Regions from separate parts of the Homo sapiens genome. Here regions 2 and 3 are each reported to be linked to region 1. Evidence: microRNA targets listed by miRTarBase, many of them from high-throughput screens and not tested one by one. Region 1 holds a microRNA gene; each other region holds the end of a gene's coding sequence.
The links. Region 1 holds the annotated microRNA hsa-miR-3178 (GGGGCGCGGCCGGAUCG, at 2,349-2,365, opposite strand). A microRNA usually pairs through its seed, bases 2 to 8, with sites in the 3' UTR of a target mRNA and lowers its output. Matches are read on the target gene's strand: a 7mer-m8 pairs with bases 2 to 8, a 7mer-A1 pairs with bases 2 to 7 and ends in A, and an 8mer does both.

Region 1 (7,162 bases):
TGGTCTCCAGGGAGTGAGTCGGGAGCCCTGCTGGATTGATGCCCAGGGCCTGTGCGGCCGCCCTGGAGGCGGTGGCTGGGATAAACGTGCACCCAGCAGGACTCGCCTTGGCTCCGGGTTTTGCTTGTGCTCACATGTGGCACCATCCTTGGTTGCCCTCCTGGAGAAGGCATTCACGGCCTGGGGTGGGATGGCTGGGCTGTAGTTTAGCCTGGGCCTTGGGCCCCAGTGGGGGACAGGGCCTGTCTGCATGAAGTGGACCGGAGACCTGCAGACCCCAGGAAAGTGTCACTATGGGAGGGAGGGGCAGGCAGTCAGTGGCTGGTGCCATGGGGTGAAGCCACCATGGGCTGGGGGTGAAGAGCCGGCAGGAAGGGGACCAGTCACAGGGAGTGTGGACAGTCAGGGGTTTGCTTTCTGCTCCTGAGTTGGGGTGTGCAGCGTGGAGCCCACAGCCTGGTTCTGGGCCAGGGCACAGTGCCAGGGGCTCCGCTCTGACCTCCAGGAGGGAGACTGGGCCCGGGACCCCTGTTTTCTGCTCCCTGGACTGCCTAGCCCTGAGTGCCACGGATGACCAGCGTTCTGTTTTCTCTTCTCAATAACCCTATCTCTTCACACATCCCCAGGCCCAGTGCTTGCCGGCTGTGGTGACCCTGCCTGGTGCTGGAGGGCAGTATGGGAGGCACCAGTGTGCCCTGCTCACCCCATTAGTGTCATCCTGCCATCTTCTGTGTCCCCTTGGCCCTGGCACACACCCATGTGGCAAACACGGGCCGTGAGGCTCCCTGAACAGCTTCGAGGCGGGTGGGCTTCTGGAGCCCTCTTGGCTCTGAGGACAGCCACAGTGGGGTCAGACGTCAGGGATTGGTGCAGCCCCACGTCAGGGGTGATTGTCTTGACTTTCTCTCCATTTGAGTTCTGGGGTGGGTGGCTCCCTTCCCCCTTGCTTACAGGTGCTGTCCTGGGCACAGGAGGTACGCGCCTGGCTCTGCCACTGTTCTCTTCCCTCTGCTGCAAAGCCCAGTTAAGGAAATGTCTCCAGGTCCAAAGAGATAGGATGGTCTGGGCCCCACCTGTTGGAAGGGAACAGCCAGGGAAGAACCACCTGCCTGGGCAGGGCCTCGCCTGAGGGAGGGCCTGGGGCAGGGCACAAGGGGTTGATCTCAGCCCACAAGCCCCAGGGGCAGCCCAGGAAAGCAGGCGACGGATGTGGATCCTGACCTCCTGAGAGGTGTGAGGTGCAGGGATACCCACCTCTGCCTTGACGGCCGCGCACCCCTTAGGAAGTGGCTGTCCAGCGCCTGCCTGTGCTGGGCCTGGGAGAGGAGCTGTCTTGCCAGGGCTCCCAGGCAGGGAGAGGCAGGTGAGGTTCTCAGCCGATGTGTTAGAGGTTGAGCATCGCCTGTGCCCAGCTTGCTGGCTGTCAGTGCTTGATGTGCCCATCCTCAGCTAAAACCCAGAGCTGGCATGTTGGTCATCCCCACCTCAGACGGGACGCCCAGTCCAGAGCTGGTGAGCCCTGGGCCAGCCTTTGGGCCTGGCCTGCCCCATTCACCGGCCAGCGCCCCACCTCCCTGGCTGGAGGGTCGGGGAGGGGCTGGCAGAGATGGTTGGTCCACAGGGCTAGCCCTGGGTGGTGGGAGAGGGGCCCAGGGTCAGGGTGAGAGAGAGCTGGGCCAGGGAGCTGCTGCAGGATGATTTTGAGGTGTGGGGGAAGCACTCTTGGTTGGTTTTGGTTTGCTTTTTAAAAATTGTGGTAAAATACATAACAAAAGTAACTATCGTAACCTGAGCAGTTCTGTGACATGAAGTGAATTCACTGCTTTGTGTGACCTTGGCCACCATCATTCCCCACCACTCACTCCCGCTGGGCTCCCAGCCCTGCCCCACCATTCCGCTCCCTCTACAGCTATGGGTTTTACAAAGAAGGATGCAGGGCGCCCTGACTGCGGGGTGAGGGGCAGGCCTGCCCGCGGTGTGGGCATTCGCTGAAGGGGGACGCCCAGGTGTCTGCCTGAGTTACGGGTTGGGGGGTCGGGCATGTGGGGAGGGATGGAGTTGGAGGTGCATGCTCTCAGAGCTGGTAGGGGTGGCCCGTTTCGTCCCGTGTGTGAACTGGAGATGAGACCCGGCGCCTGCGATCCCGCAGACCGCGCCCGGCCGGGTGTCACTTGTGGGCGCACGCTGCCGGGATGCTGGGCCGAGCCCGCGGTTTAAGACCCAGATCTCAGCCAGGTCCCTTTCGCCGTCCGAGCCTCTGCACCTCGTGGGCTCCGAGCACATCCAGGCCAGAGACTGCGTTTGGGGCGTGGGCACGGGAGACCGTCATCAGCCAGGACGCTCTCGACCGATCCGGCCGCGCCCCGCCCAGCCTCGTAGCGCAGGCGCTGAGTCCAGGCTGACGCGCAACTCTGGGAGCGTTGCGGCACGCGGGGCCTTGCCTACTGTGGGAGGGGCTTCTGGGGGCGGGCTTCTGTCGGGCCAATTAGGATCGCCGCAGGGAAGGCACGCGCCGCGGCTGAGCAACAGGGGCGCGCGTCACCTTCTCTAGTTAACCCGCGCGGCCCCGGGCACAGAGCCCGAGGCTGCGCGGTCCCCGGCGGGCCCGCGGACCCCCCCCATCTCTGCGCCCCCCACATCTCTGCGGACCCCGCCTCGCCCCAGCCCTCCCATCCACAACCCTCACAACCTTGCATACCCCGCTACGCTCCCCACCGCGCCCTCACATTCCTGCAGACCCCGTCTCCCCACAACGCTCCCCGCCAACGCTGCGGAGCTCCGCGTCGCCCCAGCGCTCCCTGCCAAGCCCCCCACACCCCTGTAGACCCCGCCTCGCCCCAACCCTCCGAGCTGCTCCCCTTATACCCTTGCGGACCTAGTTTGTTTCGTCCCAGTCCTCCCCGTCGCGTCTCCCACATCCCTGCGGACCTCCCCGCGCCTCGCCTCTCCCTTCTGTTACGTATCACGCACAGGTGGATCCCACTACGACCCAGCTTGGCTCCTGTCCCGCACCTCCGCACCTGGCCTCTAGCCCCGCCCTCACTGTCTTGGGAAATGAAGCGGAGGGGTGGGCCGGACACTCTAGAAGCACCCTGGCTCGGAGCTTCCCTAGCTCGGAGTTGGTTTGGAGCCCAGGCTAGGGACCCAGGGTGGGCGCAGCAGGGGAGATTGGCACCAGAAGCGTGGAGGAAGGGCACCTCTTCAGCCCGGCTTTTCCGCCCCTGGAGTCTGGGACAGCTCCGGAGCGTCCGGGTACTCCCTCCCAGACTGGCCCTGTTCCTTTTATCACATTTATGTCACACACGTTTTTTCTAAATGGGTTTACACTTTTGCTATTACTTTGCAGTTCGGTTTGTGTGTGTGTGACGGAGCCTGGCTGTGTTGCGCAGGCTGGAGTGCAGTGGTGCGATCTCTGCTCACTGCAGCTTCCGCCTCCCGGGTTCAAGCGATTCTCCGCCTCAGCCCCCTTAGTAGCTGGGATTACAGGCGCACGCCACCACACCTGACTAATTTTTTTGTATTTTTGGTAGAGACAGGGTTTCACTATGTTGGCCAGGCTGGTCTTGAATTCCTGACCTCAATTGATTCGCCCGCCTAGGCCTCTGAAAGTGCTGGGATTACAGGCGTGAGCCACTGTGCCCAGCCTTTTTTTTTTTTTTTTTTTAACACGGAGTCTCATTCTGTTGCCCAGCCCGGCGCGATCCTGGCTCACTGCAACCTCAGCCTCCTGGGTTCAAGTGATTCTCCTGCCTCAGCCTTCCCAGTAGCTGGGATTACAGGCATGCACCAACACGCCCAGATTTTTTTTTTTTTTTTTTTTTTTTTTTTTTTTAGTAGAGACAGGGTTTTACCATGTTAGCCAGGCTAGTCTCGAACTCCTGACCTCACGTGATGTGCGTGCCTCGGCTTCCCAAAGTGCTGGGATTACTGGTGTGAGCCACCACGCCCAGTTTTTTTTGTTTGTTTGGTTTTTTTTGAGACAGAGTCTCACTCTGTCGTCCAGGCTGGAGTGCAGTGATGCTACCTCAGCTGACTGCAAACTCACTGAACCTCTCAGGTTCAAGTGATCCTCCTGCCTCAGCCTCCAGTTCCTGGCTAATTTTTTTAGTTTTCGTATAAACGGGGTTTCATCGTGTTGGCCAGGCTGGTCTGTAATTCCTGGCCTCAAGTAATCCACCCACCTCGGCCTCCCGAAGTGCTGGGATTACAGGCGTGAGCCACTGCGCCTTGTCTGCGCCCAGTTTTTGTTTGTTTTTTAAAGAGACGGGATCTCACTATGTTGCCCAGGCTGATCTTGAAGTCCTGGGCTAAATTTTTGTCACTGTGCCTGGCTAATTTTTGTATTTTTAGTATAAATGGGATTTCACCACATTGGCCAGGCTGGTCTCAAACTCCTGGCCTCGTGATCCACCTTCCTCGGCCTCCCGAAGGGCTGGGATTACAGGCGTGAGCCACCGCGCCTGGTCTGCGCCCAGTTTTTGTTAGTTTTTTACGGAGATGGGATCTCACTGTGTTGCCCAGGCTGGTCTTGAACCGCTGGGCTCAAATCATCCTCCTGCTTCTGCCTCCCAAAGTGCTGGGATTACAGGCTTGAACGACCATGCCTAGCCATAATTATCCAGCTATAAGGTCAGCTGATTAATTCGTCTCTCTATATAATAACATATTCACAGGTTGGGAGATTAAGATGAGAACATCTTTGGAGAGGACATTATTCTGCCTTTTAGAGAGAAGGGCCTAGGACAGGAATTCCCAGTGCTCAGGTTTAAAGGAAATATGATGTTCCCATCATCGGTACATGAACGTGCCCCTTTCTCTGCATTCCTACCAACACTGGATATTTTCCACTTTTGGGACTTTTAGCAGTTGTTGAGCCAGCCCATTTTACAGCGGGGATAATTGAGGTTTAAGGAGGGGAAATTACTTGCCTAAGATCTCATGCAACTTTCTGTTTCCTGACTCCCAGTCAAGTCTGATTCTCCCTTGGTATGGCTTATATGGGAGGATATTTACCTGGTGGCTTGGAAACCACTGAATGACTTTGTATCTTCCATCCATCCATGTATCCGCAGCCCAGCGAATGTATATTGGGAGCCTCAGACATGTGACCAGGGCCTTGTGGGCCAGAGGCAGCCAGGAGACCTTTTTTTTTTTTTTTTTTTTAAGACAGAGTCTCCCTCTGTCACCCAGGCTGGAGTGCAGTGGTGCGATCTTGGTTCACTGCAACCTCTGCCTCCCGAGTTCAAGAGATTCTTCTGCCTTAGCTTCCTGAGTAGCTGGAATTACAGGCGTCCATCACCATGCCTGGCTAATTTTTGTATTTTTAGTAGAGACGGGGTTTCACCATGTTGGCCAGGCTGGTCTCCAACTCCTGACCTCAAGTGATCCACCCACCTCACTCTCCCAAAGTGCTGGGCTTACAGGTGTGAGCCACAGCGCCTAGCCAGTGCTCTTGTCTTTTGAGAGCCCCCTTTTCTCTCACCTGATCTCCCTGCCCCCTATTTTCCCCTTTAGTCTCCTTTCCAGACGCTACTGAGTAGCTTCAGGGTCAGTCTAGAGATGCAATCCAGGTTGGGATCCTTGCTGGGAGAGCCCTTCCTTCCCTGGCTTTGTAACTCAGGGCCTTCTGGTGTGCACACCTGCAGGGTCCAGGCTGGGCCTGTGCTTCTAGCTTCTCTGTGTCTCTCCCTGAGATTGGAATCCTGGCTCTGTCCTCAACTAGCTTGAAGGGGGGCCCCCAGGAATGGCCCCTTCTGGATTTCATACCCTTGTGTAACCTTGTTTCACTTTTTAAAAGATTTTATTTAAAAAGTTTTTTTTTTGTTAGAGACAGGGTCTCACTTTGTTGCCCAGGCTGCTCTCAAACACCTAGCCTCAAGCAGTGCTCCTGCCTCAGCCTCCCAAAACACGCCCGTTCACTTTCTACCAGGGTTGTGTGTGACCAGCAGATGTGTTGGAAGTGATGGTGTGTCACTTCTGAGGTTAGGTCATTAAAGACGCAGCGGCTTCTATCTTGTGTGTGTTCTCTTTTTCTTGGGCCACTCGCTCTGGGGAAAGCCAGCTGCTGGGGCTTGAAAACACACACGCCTGGGAAGAGGCCGCACTGGTGAGGGACGGAGGCCTCCAGCCCACAGCTGTGGGAACGTGGGAATGAACCTTTTAGGAAGTGAATCTTTCGGCCCTGCTCTAGCCTTTAGATGACTCAGTCCTGGCAGCATCTTGATGGCAACTTCACAAGAGAGCCTGAGCCAGACCACCCAGCCTGGCCTCTCCTGGATTCCAGACCCGCAGGAGCCATGAGTTTCTTTGTTGTTTTACACATCAAAGTTTTGAGGCAATTTGTTACACAGCAGTATATAACTAATACACCAGCTGTAGGGCTTTGGGCACGTTCCTTAGCCTCTGCACCCCCGTTTCCTCCCTCGTGCCATGAGCATTGTAGAGGCGAGTGAGGAACACGTAGACGCAGCACAGTGCCACGCACATGAGGCAGCTTTCCAGCCCCTCCCGGGATGGTTGTGGTCATTTTCTTGCCCCTCCCTGGATGGACCGTGACCTCACAACGTCAGGCCAAGTTATTGCATTCTTGGCCTGAGGTCATCCATTGGCCATAGACAGAGGTTCTCGGCAGGAAAGGGTGAGATAAAGAGAGGGGTCAGTCTCTTTCCTCCAGCCCGGGTCGGGAGAACCGTGCTGGGCCAGGTGAGACATCCGCTGTCTGTGCGGTGTCCTGGGATGAGCCACTGGACCTGACCCATGGGGAGATTTGTCTGTGTCGCCAGAGGGCGAGGGGTTTCCTGGTCTAGCTTGCCTTGGGCTTGGCCAAGCATTCTGGCTGCCACTGGGGCCCCCAGGACAACTGAGAACTGTCCTTTCTTCTTTGACCTTCAGCTGCCCCTCTCTCCCCTGTCCCCTGGTGCCTGCTCAGATGCTTTCTTCTTGTGACCCTTGACCCTTGGCCCTTGGCCCCTGCCCCGAGGCTCCTCCACCCTGGGCTCCGTGTTCTAGAGTTCACTGTGTACTAGTTCCTCAAGCTGTTTGTCCTTCACTGCTTCCGATTTTTCTGTGCATTACTCAAGAACTGCATGGGCATGTGTCAGTATAAAAAAAAATAAAGTTGGCCGGGCGCGGTGGCTCACGCTTGTAATCCCAGCACTTTGGG
Region 2 (7,193 bases), not on the chromosome of region 1:
TGGCATGTGCCTGTGGTCCTAGCTTTTCGGGAGGCTGAGGTGGGAGAATGACTTGAGCCTGCGAGGTTAAGGCTGCAGTGAGCCATTCCCACCTCACCCCAGCCTGGGCGATAGAGTGAGACCCTGTCTCAAGAAAATCCCAAAACAAAACCAAAAACATTTAACGTGGAGTGAGTTTATTACTTACAGATTGGCAACAAGGGACAACAGAAGCCTAGGATTCATTATAAGCTTGTCTCCCAAGGAAAACTGCCTGGGGTTGATGACATCTGTGTGTGCCCCACTTGAACCTCAGATGAGTGCCCTGGGTTTTATGACCTGGGGGTTAGAAGGGGAGGTACTACATGACTCCTTGGGCTAAAGCATTGAAGGACGTCCTGTCTTTAGGGAGGGACTGGAACAGAACTTGAGCTGTCCTTGGCCATTCATTTGCTATCCCAGGATGTTACATTCCCAGCACATTCTACAGTTACTCTTGAAAACTACAGGCAAGACAGTGAGACAGAGCTATCCTGCAACTACCCACCAATCTGACCAGATATTTTGTCTTCTTTATGCTTTTAAACTATCATCTTATTTCAGGCTTTGGACTATAATGTAAAATTTTATGAATAGCTGCTATTCAGAAAAATCATTTTGTATTTCTATGTCCCATATTCCTCTTTTTACCTGTTTGTTCACTGAAGTACTGTTATATAACTTCAAGTAAAATTTACTTTTCTGTCTCTTTTTTATCTTTTCTAGTGGACAGTTTCATAAAGCATAACATGAGTAGAAGAATCTACTGCCAATAACTGTTTATTATCTGCAATCAAGTGGGCTTCATCAATTTAATTTCTTCTCTTTGAGTAAATGAAGATTCAGACTTTGTAATATTATTGCCCTTAAGTGCAATGCTAAAAAAACGTTGATTTTCAAGCTTAGAGAATGGCTAGACTTTTCATTAAATACTGATTTTCCTACATTTGCTCTTCTGCAGTTAGTGGGTGATTTGCTATTTTTCTTAGTAGTTAAAAAATGGAACTAAATAGTGAATATACATACACTGCATGTAAACATTCTGCATATACCTCTAAGATTAAAATTCGCAGTTGTCTTTTCATCCTTTATAAAATGATCTAACTACTTATATTTGTGCTGCATCGCGTTACATCTGTTTTTATTTCACTATGAAGATGTTTGATTAAACTTATGGACTTAGTGCCTTTAAACTGATCATCAGGGAGAATCTTGAAAAAATCATTTGAAGGGCTGATGTGAAGGAGCACTGTAAATTTTTATAACTTAGTAATGAGTATTCTTAGGCAGATGTAAAATTTTTTCCAATTTATTTTTATTTATGTAGCTTATAAAATTAACATACCCTGTTTTACTTTATGATAAAGGATTTTTTGTTTGCTGAATTTAAAATTATATATTAGTGATACCATCAGAGGGCAGTGATGTTCTATTGTATATTAAATTCAGCTCTGTAAGGATCTTTGTAGTAATTGAATGAGTTAAACTAATAATCTGGATGGGTTATAATGAGTAGTAATATATTTGTCCATATTTCATAAGTAGTGTTAATCTTGTGTACTTATTAGAGAACGATCATAAGATTTATACAGATGTGAAACTGCGAAGGCAAGTATGAATGTATGAAAAAAACATGTAGGTACTGTACTTACAAAAGGTCTACTTCAGATATAAAAATATTAGGTAATTCTATACAATGCATAGTCATAAACCTTAACATTTTTGTTCATTAGAAACATGAATTTTATAGCATTTTTTGTTTCTCCTATATAATACACTGAAATAAAAGAATTTGTGTTAGCTATTAAGGCTGATAGCTCTTTTAAATGGCAAGGCCACATGTTGAGCCCTAAATTAAAATTTGCAGATATTAAGTGCTAATAGAAATTTTAAGTTAAATCGACCAAGTTCACTTGCTTTACACAAAGGAAACTGAGCCACTATCTTCATCTACCCCTCCAACAAAAATTATGTTATACTGCAGTGTATTGTACATGTTAATTTTTAAAAGTTTGAACTATTATATAATACAGGTCTCTTGACTTCTCATGGAAAAATTATTTTTTCTATTATGGTGTGAAATATTGTGTGAATATCTAGGCAAAACATAACAATTTGGCTCAATTTTCTTCTTTAGAGGATTCGTGCTGTTTTTGTTCATAAAGGGTAGTGAAATCATTGAACTATATTTTAGAATGAAAATTTTTGATTTTATTAAAATGATTTTTTCAAGGCAGAAAGTAAAAGGAATGATTGATAGCGGAGTGCATATAGAGCTAGAGCATATCATCCTTGAACTCTGCAAATCCTTTCTTCCATTTTAATATAGCAAGAACAATTTTGTCTTTACTACATCTTAAAGAATTAGAACTTGGGTTGGTGTAAGTGACTTACTTCCAGGGAATCATGCCCTATTTCTACCAGCAGGTCATACCCAAATGTCACACTATCTATTGTTAACCATGAATGATATTCAGATCTATTACTTTTCGTGAAAAGTGGAACATGTTACTTCCAACCATGGCCTGTCACCGTGAGTGTGATCAGCTTTCTCCAAAACCACATGGGTCGCAGGAGCTAAGGGGTGGTACCCAAATGTTAGGAACAGTGTTAGGAAAGGGCAAGGGAAAAGAAGTGACTGGATGTCTTATGAGAAACCGGTAAATGACTAAAAAAAAAAGCAAATGACTAAAAACATGACTAAAAAATTATATATATATATAATATATATATTATATATGTGTGTATATATATACACATAATATCTGCAAATTCTAATTTATATATGTGTGTGTATATACACACACACACATGCACATACACACATACGTCCAGACATCTCCCTCATAAAATAACCATCAGTTTCTATGAAAACCTTAAGTGGAAGCCAATTTCCCATAGTAAATAATTTAGGAGAAAATTATAATGCTTAAAATGTTGCTCAAACCCCTGACCTATTACTAAACTATAATTGGAACAGTAAAATGCATATATGTAACTATCATATCATGATTTAAAATTGCTTAAACCATTGCTGCTTAATACTAATCAAACTTAACGGCTGCTAACAAAAGTTGTGAATTATTACACGGCCTCTTTGTAACGTGCTGCATGTTTTTTAAAACATCTCTGTGTTTCTGTTTGTTCCACTGCTGGTATTTGGAATGTAATTTAACAGTTCTCACACATGGTTTGGTTATAAATTCTGTATTGCCTTTTAGGGATATAAATATACATTTTTTTCTATGTAAAAATTAGCTTTAGCTGTCTCTTTAACAAAATTTTATCTTTACTACATCCTAAATACTTAGAACCTGAGTTGGTGGTTAGGGAAACCTCAGGAACATTTTAATCACATTGGGATTCAGAAGAGCAACAGAACCAAAGGTTGTTTGGTGTGTTCATACAATCCCTGGATTTATAGGTGGATTTTCTATAAAGGAAAAATGATGTAATTAGTATCCTGTTTTTTCCTAAAGAAATAATACTATCATAAAAATTCTGTCTATCCTTTGTACCCCAGGAAAATGGACATGAACTTTGAATTTTCCCTTTCTCCAAATGTTTGACTTTTTATTTTCACTGATAAGCATTATGCTATGTTCTTAGAAGACAAAAGCAGCTCTTGCCAGTTTTGAATAATTTCTGCATGAATAGACCAGTAAGAGGTAAGTAGCCATGACTGCCTATATGTGTTGAGACATAAGGTATATTTCTTTAACATCTCCAAGCAAGCATTTCAAATTCTCTTAACTACTAAACATGCTCTAAGCTAATTCAAATATAGTATTGTGGCTTTTTTCTTCAATTTTCTCAAAAGCTACAGACACAAGGCATTTGTATGTATAACAGACTTTGATGAAGTTTTGGTTCCAGTAACTCAAAACACTAAGTTTCCCATTTGATATGGCTTTTTATTGTTCTAGTCTCCCTCTTCTAGTTATGCTTCATCTTGCAAATATTGACTTTGAATGTGATAACTATTGCCTACAAATTAAGTATTCATACATTACTCCTGTGGATATCATACTTTTTTGTTATTATATCCTGAATTGCATTGGCTTTTTTTGGTTTTGTTTTGTTTTTTGAGATGGAGTTTCACTCTTGTTGCCCAGGTTGGAGTGCAATGGCACAATCTCAGCTCACCGCAACCTCTGCCTCCCAGGTTCAAGTGATTCTCCTGCCTCAGCCTCCCTAGTAGCTGGGATTGCAGGCATGTGCCACCACGCCTGACTAATTTTGTGTTTTTAGTAGAGACAGGGTTTCTCCACGTTGGTCAGGCTGGTCTCGAACTCCTGACCTCAGGTGATCCCTGCCGCCTTGGCCTCCCAAAGTGCTGGGATTACAGGCATGAGCCACCGCGCCCGGCCTGCATTGGCTATATTTATAATACCAAATTTGTGTTGAGTTTTGAGTTAATGTCTTCTAGTTATCAAAACAGGTTTGATCCATTCTTTGCAAGTACCTCTAACTTATCTCAAGTGGAACTAATTAGTTTTGCACACAGATTGGTGCTCTCTAGGCTATTTCCCTGAAATTTATCTTGTTACATAAGTCAGATATCAAGGAGTTATGCTAAACTCCTTTTCCTATCAAACTCCTAAAATGCCCTTTTCTCTGTCTATATTTCTTAGACATAGTTACATTATAAATGTAACAGATATATTTAAAGTAGGTTAATACCAAGTGTCTCAGGTAGAAAATTCTCAGAGGTTCCACAAAAACTTCTGGAACTAATAAATGACTTTAGTAATCTTGCAGAATGAAAAGTATATGAAAGTCAATTCTATGTTTATATGCAAGCAATGAAAAATCTGTAATTGAAAGTGGGAAAATTTAAATTACAATATCAACAAATAAAATATTTAGGAAAAATAAAACTGTAGACATTAAAAATGACAAAACATTGCCAATAAATTAAGATCTAAATGAAGAAACATTGTATGTTTTTGGATTGGAAGATGGTAATTCTCAAATGGGCCAGTAAATTCAGTGCAAAATCCCAGCAAACTTTTCTAGAGAACTTAATAAGATGATCCTTGAATTTATATGGAAATGCAAGACTTAGAAAAGCCAAAACAGTTTTGAAAAAACAAAGTAGGGAAGTACTAGCCAGAGCAGTCAGGCAAGAGAAAAAAAATACAAAGCATCCATATAGAAAAAAGTTGTCAAACTCTCTCTCTTCGCTGACAACATGATACTATACCTAGACAACCCTAATGACTCTGCCAAAAGGCTTTAAAATGGATAAACAACTTCAGTAAAGTTTCAGGATACAAAGTAAATGTGCAAAAATCAGTAGCGTTTCTATACATCAATAATATTCAAGTTGAGAGCCAAATCAAGAATGCAATCCAATTTACAATAGCCACACACACAGTAACTACCTAGGAATGCATGTAACCAAAGAGGTGAAATATCTCTAAACGGTGAATTACAATACACACTGAAAGAAACCAATGGAAAAATGTTCCATGCTTATGGATTGGAAGAATCAATATCATTAAAATGGACATACTGCCCAAAGCAATCTATAAATTCACTGCTGTTCCTATCAAGCTACCAATGTCATTTTTTCACAGAATGGAACAGAATAGAGAATTCAGAAATAAAGCTGCACAACTAGAGCCATCTGGTCTTTGACAAAGTTGATGAAAATTGCAATGGAGAAAACACTCACTAGTCAATAAGTGGTACTGGAATAACTGGCTAGCTGTAAGCAGAAGAATGAAACTCAAGATGGATTAAAGAAAGATTTAATTGTAAGATCTCAGATTATAAGGATCCTAGAAGAAAACCTAGAATACACTATTCTGGATATCAGCCTTGGGAAAACATTTATGCCTAAGTCCTCAAAAGCAATTGCAACAAAAATAAAAATTGACAAGTGAGACAAACAGTTTCTGCAAGCAAAACTATCAACAGAGTAAACAGACAATCCACAGAATGGGAGAAAATAATCACAAACTATGCACCTGACAAAGGTCTAATATGCAGAATCTATAAGGAACTTAGTTCAACAAGTCAAAAATAACCCCATTGAAAAATGGGTAAAATACATGAACAGACGTCTCAAAAGAAGACATACAAGTGGCCAAGAAATGTGAAAACATGCTCATCATCACTAATCAGATAACCAAATCAAAACCACAGTCAGATATATTTCACGCCAGTCAGAATGGCTAGTATTAAAAACTTAAGAAAACAACAGATGCTGCTGAGGCTGTGGTGAAAAGGGAATGCTAATACACTATTGGTGGGAATGTAAGTCATTCAGTTCAGCCACTGTGGAAAGCAGTTTGGAGACTTCTCAAAGAACTTAGAACTGGTATTGGACCTGGCAATCCCATTACAGGGTATATATCCAAAAGAAAATGAATCATTCTACCAAAAAAGCCATGCATTCATGTATGTTCATTGCAGCACTATTCACAATAGCAAAGACATGGAATCAACCTAGGTGTCCATCAATGGTAAACTAGATAAAGAAAATATGATACATATATGCCATGGAATATTACACACAGCCATAACAACAACATAATTATGTCCTTTGCAGCAATATGGATGCAGCTGAAGGCCATTATTCTAAATGAATTTATGCAGAAACCAAACCAAATACCACATGTTCTCACTTATAAGTGAGAAGTAAGCATTAGATGCTCATGGATGTAAAGATGGCAACAATAGATACTGGGCACTACTCTAGAGTGGGGAGAGAGGGAGGAGGGCAATGTTTGAAAAACTGACTATTGGATACTATAGTCACCTGGGTGATGAGATCAATTTCACCCCAAAGCTCAGCATTATGCAATGTATCCATGTAACCTTCATGCGTACCCACTGAATGTAAAATAAAAGTCAAAATTGTCTTTTAAAATTGCAATTGCTGAGAAAAGTAGGAAAATTTATACAGCCTGATATCAAAATGTACTATAACGTCACAATAGTCAAGATAGTGTGGTATTGGCCTAAGGATAGCTGCTAGATCAGTGAAATAGAATAGAAGGTTTAGAAATAAACTTACATTTTTTACAGGGCACTTCAATGGAGAAATGGGGAAATAACATTTTCAACAAATGGTGCTGGGAAAACTGAATCCATATGCCAATAAAATTAACTCAAGCCTTTACTTCACACCATACACAAAAATTAAAATGTGTCATAGAGCTGAA
Region 3 (7,193 bases), not on the chromosome of region 1:
CCACATTGCTACCCAATGGACACACTCCAAAATGGCCAGTGGGCAGGGAATCCTGGAGCACTTGTTCCGGGATGGTGTGGTGGAAGAGGGGATGAGGGAAAGAAATGGGGGGCCTGGGTCAGATTTTTATTGTGGGGTGGGATGAGTAGGACAACATATTTCAGTAATAAAATACAGAATAAAAATCAAGTGTTTTTACGCAATGGGGATTTAAAGTGTGGGCGACATGGAATGAGGGGTGGGTCAGTGATCTTGAGCTCAGGGCAGAAGCCAGGAATTAAGAAGGGAAATGTTTGTGGTGGGGCTGCTATGTTTCGTGCCGGTCCGCCGGTCCGCCGTTGCGCTGTTCTGAGGTCTACGAAGCGTTTGCAGCCCCGTCGCCAGGGCCGGCCAGATCTGGGTGGGCCTGGGCAGCGCTCGCTGGGCGGTGCCGATTTCTGGCAAGGGGGGCGCAGTCTGGATGTAATGGGCGAGGCTTAGCAGGGCGGAATGGGCGTGGCCCGAAGAAGCCCCGCCCCGTCCCGCTTAGACAATGCCCCGGAGCCGCCAGACCGTCGCGCCCCTGCCCCATCGTAGTATATGAGCTCGCCTACACAAGGACCCGCGCTAAAAGCCAGAGCTCCCAGTCCCCGAGGCTTGAAGACGGGGACTCCCTTCTCCACCAACTCTGTCCTCGGGGGGTGGGGCCCCAGCCGAGATCACAGCGCGACAGGAGTGGGGGTGGCCGCTGGAGGTGAGTCTTGCGTGGGGGGCCCTGAACCGTGTGGGGGCCGGAGTTTGGGGGTGCCGGGCCCATGCCTGCACCAGACAGAGAGTATGGGGAGCCGGTATTTGGGCGCGGAGCTAGGCGGGGTGGACTTTGGGACATAGACGGGGAACCGGGTCCTGGAGCCGGGAGTAGTGCCAGCGCCCCGGAACCACGCCCCCTGTTACCCCGCCCCTCGCATTTCGTTTTAGACCTCTCCCAGTCCTTCGGGACTCGGTCTGGTTTATACTAGGTCGCGCTAGGGGCAGCGTGACCAGCCAGGGCGGAGAGAGGATGCTTAACTCCTTAGGCTCGAACTCCTCCCTTCCTACCCACCTCTCTCCCTTCTCGTTCGGGTATTCAGGACTTCCATTCCCCAGCCCCTGCCTCTCCAGCTTTCTCCTTCTGTCCCATAACCCCTGCGGGTCGCGGGCTGGACTTCCAGTCCCTGCGGTAGCGAGCAGCTGAGGGTTAAGGGGGCGGGGCTGCTGCATTTTTGGGGAGTGAGCGCATCCTAGTGGCTGCCAAGAGGGGCGCCCGACAGGGACCTCACAAGCCCCCAAGCAGGGGCAACAGGTGTTTTGGAGATTAGAGACCCTAGCCTTGTTCCTCAGGCTCCTCTTAAAGAATCTGACCCCTGAGGGTGCTGGGTAGAGTGAGGTCGACAGGAGCGGAAGGTCTGGAGTGGGTGGGGCGGAGTGGGAGGGACGCCTAGAGATGGCAGGAGGAAGACCTGGGCGCTCTTAACCACCCCCAACGCCCTTGTCTGCATGTCTTTTTCTCTGTCTCCTCCTTTTCTGTTTCTTCTCCCAGACAGGTGAAGAAACAAGAAAACTAAGAAATCCGAGCGGTTGGAGGGGGAGTCTGTGTGGATGGGATGGGGACGCCGGGGGAGGGGCTGGGCCGCTGCTCCCATGCCCTGATCCGGGGAGTCCCAGAGAGCCTGGCGTCGGGGGAAGGTGCGGGGGCTGGCCTTCCCGCTCTGGATCTGGCCAAAGCTCAAAGGGAGCACGGGGTGCTGGGAGGTAAACTGAGGCAACGACTGGGGCTACAGCTGCTAGAACTGCCACCTGAGGAGTCATTGCCGCTGGGACCGCTGCTTGGCGACACGGCCGTGATCCAAGGGGACACGGCCCTAATCACGCGGCCCTGGAGCCCCGCTCGTAGGCCAGAGGTGAGCGCCGTGGCGCGGGTGTGGTATGGGGAAAGGCAGAAGGAACTGGATGTCGGGGCTTTGGGGAAGAATTGAGGATGGGGGTGTCACAGCTCCGTGCCCTCTTCTCCTATCCTAAGGTCGATGGAGTCCGCAAAGCCCTGCAAGACCTGGGGCTCCGAATTGTGGAAATAGGAGACGAGAACGCGACGCTGGATGGCACTGACGTTCTCTTCACCGGTGAGGCTGGGGGGAGGCATAGGTCTTGGCACAGGGAAGTAGAGTTTGGGAGACTCGGCCGTCTGGAGCCTTGTTTCTAACTCACTCCCGCCCTCAAACCTCCGCGGCCTCCCGGACTCAGGCCGGGAGTTTTTCGTAGGCCTCTCCAAATGGACCAATCACCGAGGAGCTGAGATCGTGGCGGACACGTTCCGGGTGCGGAGCGGGACCAGCCTAGGGAGGGAGGGGGTGCAGGTGGGGGTCGGAAGGGCCTGGGCGCCCGCTGAGGAAATGAGAGGCAGAGAGCAGCCTATGTTTGAAGATACCCCATCACCCCTCCCGCGCCCCTGAATACCTCCCTTCGCTCTCCCTAGGACTTCGCCGTCTCCACTGTGCCAGTCTCGGGTCCCTCCCACCTGCGCGGTCTCTGCGGCATGGGGGGACCTCGCACTGTTGTGGCAGGCAGCAGCGACGCTGCCCAAAAGGCTGTCCGGGTGAGGAGGGGGCGGGGCCAACGAAAGTGGGCGCAGTTCTGGGCCCGGGAGGCCGGGAGCTGGGAGGCTTAGGAAATTAGCCCTAACCCCTGCCCTCAATGGGCTGTCCATCTTACATGAAAGAACACAGGAGAAAATAAGAAGTTACAACAGCAGGACTGGGAACAGGGGTGATTAATTTGCTCTTCCGGAGTTTCAGGAAACCCCAAAGGTGGCACCTAAACTGTGACTCTAAGGATGGGTAGGACAGATAGGAGGGGCTGGGGAAGGTAGGGGGTTGAAAATAACTGCATGTGATTCCAAGGTGGAAATTAGCAAAGGTAACTAAAGTACTTAGTGTCTGACATATCGTAAGCTCTATGTGCTTGCTGTCATTATTTTCCACAAATGTCAGTCCGTCCCCAGCCCTTAGTGGTGGTTGAGCAGGCAGACACAGCTGTGGAGAGGTTCTGAGACTCGAACACTTCCTCTTTCCTCTAGGCAATGGCAGTGCTGACAGATCACCCATATGCCTCCCTGACCCTCCCAGATGACGCAGCTGCTGACTGTCTCTTTCTTCGTCCTGGGTTGCCTGGTGTGCCCCCTTTCCTCCTGCACCGTGGAGGTGGGGATCTGCCCAACAGCCAGGAGGTGAGAGAGGGCAGGAACTCCAACACCAAGCACCATCAGAGAAAAGAGTTTCAGGCTTTCCTAGTGGGAGGAAGGAAGGGTACCTTCTCTAGAAGCCTGGGTGGGGCCACTCTGAGCTGGCTGGAAGAGTGGCCTGGCTCAGCCTGAGGTCTCACTCCCCTCTCCCCACTCCATGTCTTCCCTGTGCAGGCACTGCAGAAGCTCTCTGATGTCACCCTGGTACCTGTGTCCTGCTCAGAACTGGAGAAGGCTGGCGCCGGGCTCAGCTCCCTCTGCTTGGTGCTCAGCACACGCCCCCACAGCTGAGGGCCTGGCCTTGGGGTACTGCTGGCCAGGGGTAGGATAGTATAGGAAGTAGAAGGGGAAGGAGGGTTAGATAGAGAATGCTGAATAGGCAGTAGTTGGGAGAGAGCCTCAATATTGGGGGAGGGGAGAGTGTAGGGAAAAGGATCCACTGGGTGAATCCTCCCTCTCAGAACCAATAAAATAGAATTGACCTTTTAGACTGGGCTGTGACTGGTGTCTTACTGGGGCAAAGGGATAGGGCAGGGCTGAAACCTGAGTTTGGGGTCAGTGCAGGGAAGAAGGCCTCTTATTCAAAAATCTTGTTAGGTACTTATCAACTCATTGCCCAACCATGTCATAGGTACTTGAGCACAAGATGAACAAGACAGAATTTCTATCATGGGAAGTGTGTCCAGGGCAGAGAAAAGAGTGTATGGGTGGATTGCTCACTGAATTTATCTAAATGTTAGATGATTCAGAGACTGGTAGATTACCAGTCCACCCCTATTTGATAAAGAAAAAGAAATGACACTTCCAGGGACATTCATTTTCATTCATTCATTTAATGAGGCTTAGCAATGATATCAAAAGGGTCAGTCTCCTGACGTTGGGGAGCTCACAGTACATGCAAATTTCTTACAAATTGAAATACAGGTTGTCATGGAACAATTTACAGAAGGCTGTTTCTATGAGGGAAATAAAGGGGGTGCGCCCTAGGGCATCAAAGTATATGCAAGGGGTGGCCAAGGAGGGTCACCTTCCCAGAAAAGGCCATACTTGAACTAAGGATAAATAAGAATTAGCCAGGCAGATAGTGTGAAGGAGGGAAAGGGGTAATACAGGAAGAAGGAATTGCACTGGGCAAAGACATTTTGGGGCTAGGGAGAATTCTCTAAGGCTGGCATTTTCTAAGATGTGCATGTGGAATGACACAGGTAAGCCTGGAGAGTGGACAAAGTGCTGTAGTACCTTGTATCCAAAGCCAAGGCACGTGGGCACAGAGCTGAAGCTAAGGAGAGTACTTCAGTTCTGTAATAAGGGCTGTCAGGAGCAGTTATCTCTTGAGTAGGATCTCTCTGACTTCAGGGAGGAAAGCAAGGGTAGGAGGATGAGGTGGGGCTATGGGTAATCCAGGAAGGAAGTGAGCAGAGTACATTCACGTGGCAGCGCTGGGCATGGAATACAGTGTGGGTTTGACAGTGATGTTAAGATAGAAAGACTGGACTTCATGGCTCATTGTGTGGGAGTAAGAGAGAAAGGAGGTCTGCGTGACTCCCAGTTTCTGGGTTGGGCAACTGGGTTGTTAAAGAGAATACAGAGGAGAATTAAGTGAGCAGCTTCAGAGATGACAATGAGTTGGGTTTGACATTCAGAGTGCGAAATGCCTGAGGTCAGTCAGGCAGAATGTCTAAGTGGAAGTTTGTTAATCCCAAATCTGAGATCTGAGCCAGAGAGAGTTCTGAGTGTCATTTGCAGAGGAGGGGGCTGAGGACTGACTGTTGATGAGAGTGTCCCAGAAGAAGAGAAAGGGACAAACCTAGAATGGTGGGAAATACTGTAGGGATATGGAGCAAGGAAGAGGAGTCCAAAAAGAAAACACCAGCAACAAAGAAAAACAGCTTAAAGAATCAGGCCGGGCGCGGTGGCTCACACCTGTAATCCTAGCACTTTGGGAGGCCGGGGCGGGTGGATCACGAGGTTAGCAGATCAAGACCATCCTGGCTAACACAGTGAAACCCCGTCTCTACTAAAAATACAAAAAATTAGCTGGGCGTGGTGGCGGGCGCCTGTAGTCCCAGCTACTCAGGAGCCTGAGGCAGGAGAATGGTGTGAACCCGGCAGGCGGAGCTTGCAGTGAGGGAGATGGTGTCACTGCACTCCAGCCTGGGCAACAGAGCGAGACTCCGTCTCAAAAAAAAAAAAAAAAGGAGCTAGGGCTTGATTGGGTATAGAGAGGACACTGGTGGTGAGGGAGACATGGAGGTTATAGGAGAGATGGGAGTAAGTTTAGAAGTAAGACCAGTGGCAGAGACAGCCTGGAACCCAGGTCTCCCAACTCCCAGTCTAGCACTTATTTCTATACCATGGTGCCTTCCTCTTCCAGGTGAGGAACCAAGGAGGGGAGAGGGATTATGGGGAGCTGGGATCCCCTAGCTTGGGAGGTTTGGAGTAAGGGCTTCCCTTCAAACTACAACTGCATAGATGGTGGAGGCATCAGCAGGGTCCGCTGTGGACAGCCGGCGGGGCCTGCTGAGGGCTAGATGGTCCAGATCCGCATAGAGCAGGCTCTGGAGGAGGAAGGGGAGGAAGACAAGATGGTCTCCACAGTCTTCCTTGGGGTTCAGGCCTTTTTTTTTTTGGTCCATTTTCCTCAGAGATTCTGGCTATCCCCTTCCCATCCCCATGCCCTTACCGGTTCCTGGTCCAGGTCCCCTGGAATCTTGGGCTCTTCCTCCTTTACTGGCCTCTGGGGCTCGGTTTTCACAAGTGGAGCTATGTGGGGGGGACAGAGCTGAAGGATGGAGAGAAGGTGACCAACGTGTCTGCTCCCAGCAAGGGCTCAGACTCAGGAATTGAGGGGTGGGGAGTGGGCATGTAGGAGAAAGAAAATGGGGTGGAATTAGTCTCACCAAATCTAGGGAGTGGTCGAATCGGTTGCGGGGGCAGGCGCCTGTAAGGGACATATGAGTCTTTGAGAACCACCAGTCTTGTCTCACTGGTTCTCCTGGGACTCGCCACGCCAAGGACAGCCCAGCAACTTGAAGGCTCAGACCGGAAACAACTTAGACTCTACCCCACCGACAGTCCAGCCCAGGCTCTAACTCTGCTGCACTTCCAGCTCATCTGCTCTGGTGGGGCTCTACTCACCAGTCAGCGGCCTCGCTCCCACCTTTGACCTCTCCCATTCTTCGCCAAGCCAGGACCAGAGCTCTAGGTCTAGCTCTTTCTTTTGCGAAGGTTCTGGTCCTGCCCCTTCCACCTCTGGTCACTCCCCATTTAACGAGGCCGGGTCCCTCCTGCTCACCTGTGCAGCCACCAGACCAGGCCCAAAGCTCCCAGTCCGAGCACCAACCCAGCGCCCAGCAGCGGGATCAGGAGCTGGGGATACACGGACCCTGGGGGAAAGGCGTGGCGGGGAGGGATGCTGAGGTCAGGGGTTTGACGAGGGACAGCCAGCAGTCCCGCTCAAGAACCCCCAGCCAAGGCCCTCTTCCCTCCTCCGGGTATGTGTCGGAGTTAAGTACCCTTGTGCGCACAGGCCTGCACCTACCATGGGTAGGCCCGGGGGCCTTGCAATAGGTCCTGTCCCCCAGCACGTGAAGCACTGTACGGCTCTCGTCCTCGTGGCGGCCCTTGCAGAAAAAAGTGCCCGAGTCCCCCGCGCTCAAGAGGAGCTCCAGCCGCCGGATACCAGAGTCCAGGGAGCGTAGGCGGCCGACGAAAGGCTGGAGGGGAGGCACGGTGGGGGTCCCGCTCGAAGAGGCCCACAGGATCGGTCGGCGTCCTTTGGACAGGCCCTTGCAGGCCGGGAAGCTGGGTGCCCAGACCCAGCGGATGGGATGAGAGACTCCTCCGCAGGAGAGATTCACCCGGTCCCCAGGGCGGCCGTCCAGAGAAGCTAGGAGAGGCCGGAGGCTGTGGTTAGGGCACGTCCACAGGGCAAGAC

Region 2: miRTarBase lists SVIP as a target of hsa-miR-3178. Seed matches in the 3' UTR shown: 7mer-m8 at 4,378-4,384.
Region 3: the mRNA of MPIG6B is a reported target of hsa-miR-3178. Seed matches in the 3' UTR shown: 7mer-m8 at 5,162-5,168.

Annotation. Positions count from the first base shown.
Region 1 is chr16:2,529,631-2,536,792 of GRCh38, forward strand. It overlaps MIR3178 (microRNA 3178), which reads right to left and starts at 2,375; the gene lies at 2,292-2,375. It overlaps AMDHD2 (amidohydrolase domain containing 2), which reads left to right. Exons shown (of 11, transcript NM_001330449.2): 11 at 1-1,787. CEMP1 (cementum protein 1) reads right to left here and starts at 1,778. Exons shown (of 1, transcript NM_001048212.3): 1 at 405-1,778. The coding sequence starts at 1,443. The coding sequence ends at 700. RefSeq lists enhancers at 2,181-2,230, 3,009-3,710, 3,011-3,060.
Region 2 is chr11:22,816,685-22,823,877 of GRCh38, reverse strand. SVIP (small VCP interacting protein) reads left to right here. Exons shown (of 4, transcript NM_148893.3): 4 at 745-4,951. The coding sequence ends at 759. Among named protein-coding and RNA genes, the nearest start is that of LINC02718, 9.1 kb to the left of the region's middle.
Region 3 is chr6:31,723,591-31,730,783 of GRCh38, reverse strand. MPIG6B (megakaryocyte and platelet inhibitory receptor G6b) reads right to left here. Exons shown (of 6, transcript NM_138272.3): 2 at 6,798-7,145; 3 at 6,552-6,642; 4 at 6,157-6,197; 5 at 5,940-6,019; 6 at 4,070-5,814. The coding sequence ends at 5,710. It overlaps DDAH2 (DDAH family member 2, ADMA-independent), which reads left to right and starts at 1,485. Exons shown (of 6, transcript NM_001303007.2): 1 at 1,485-1,919; 2 at 2,039-2,138; 3 at 2,260-2,333; 4 at 2,492-2,611; 5 at 3,092-3,241; 6 at 3,431-3,744. The coding sequence starts at 1,623. The coding sequence ends at 3,547. CLIC1 (chloride intracellular channel 1) reads left to right here. Exons shown (of 6, transcript NM_001288.6): 6 at 1-185.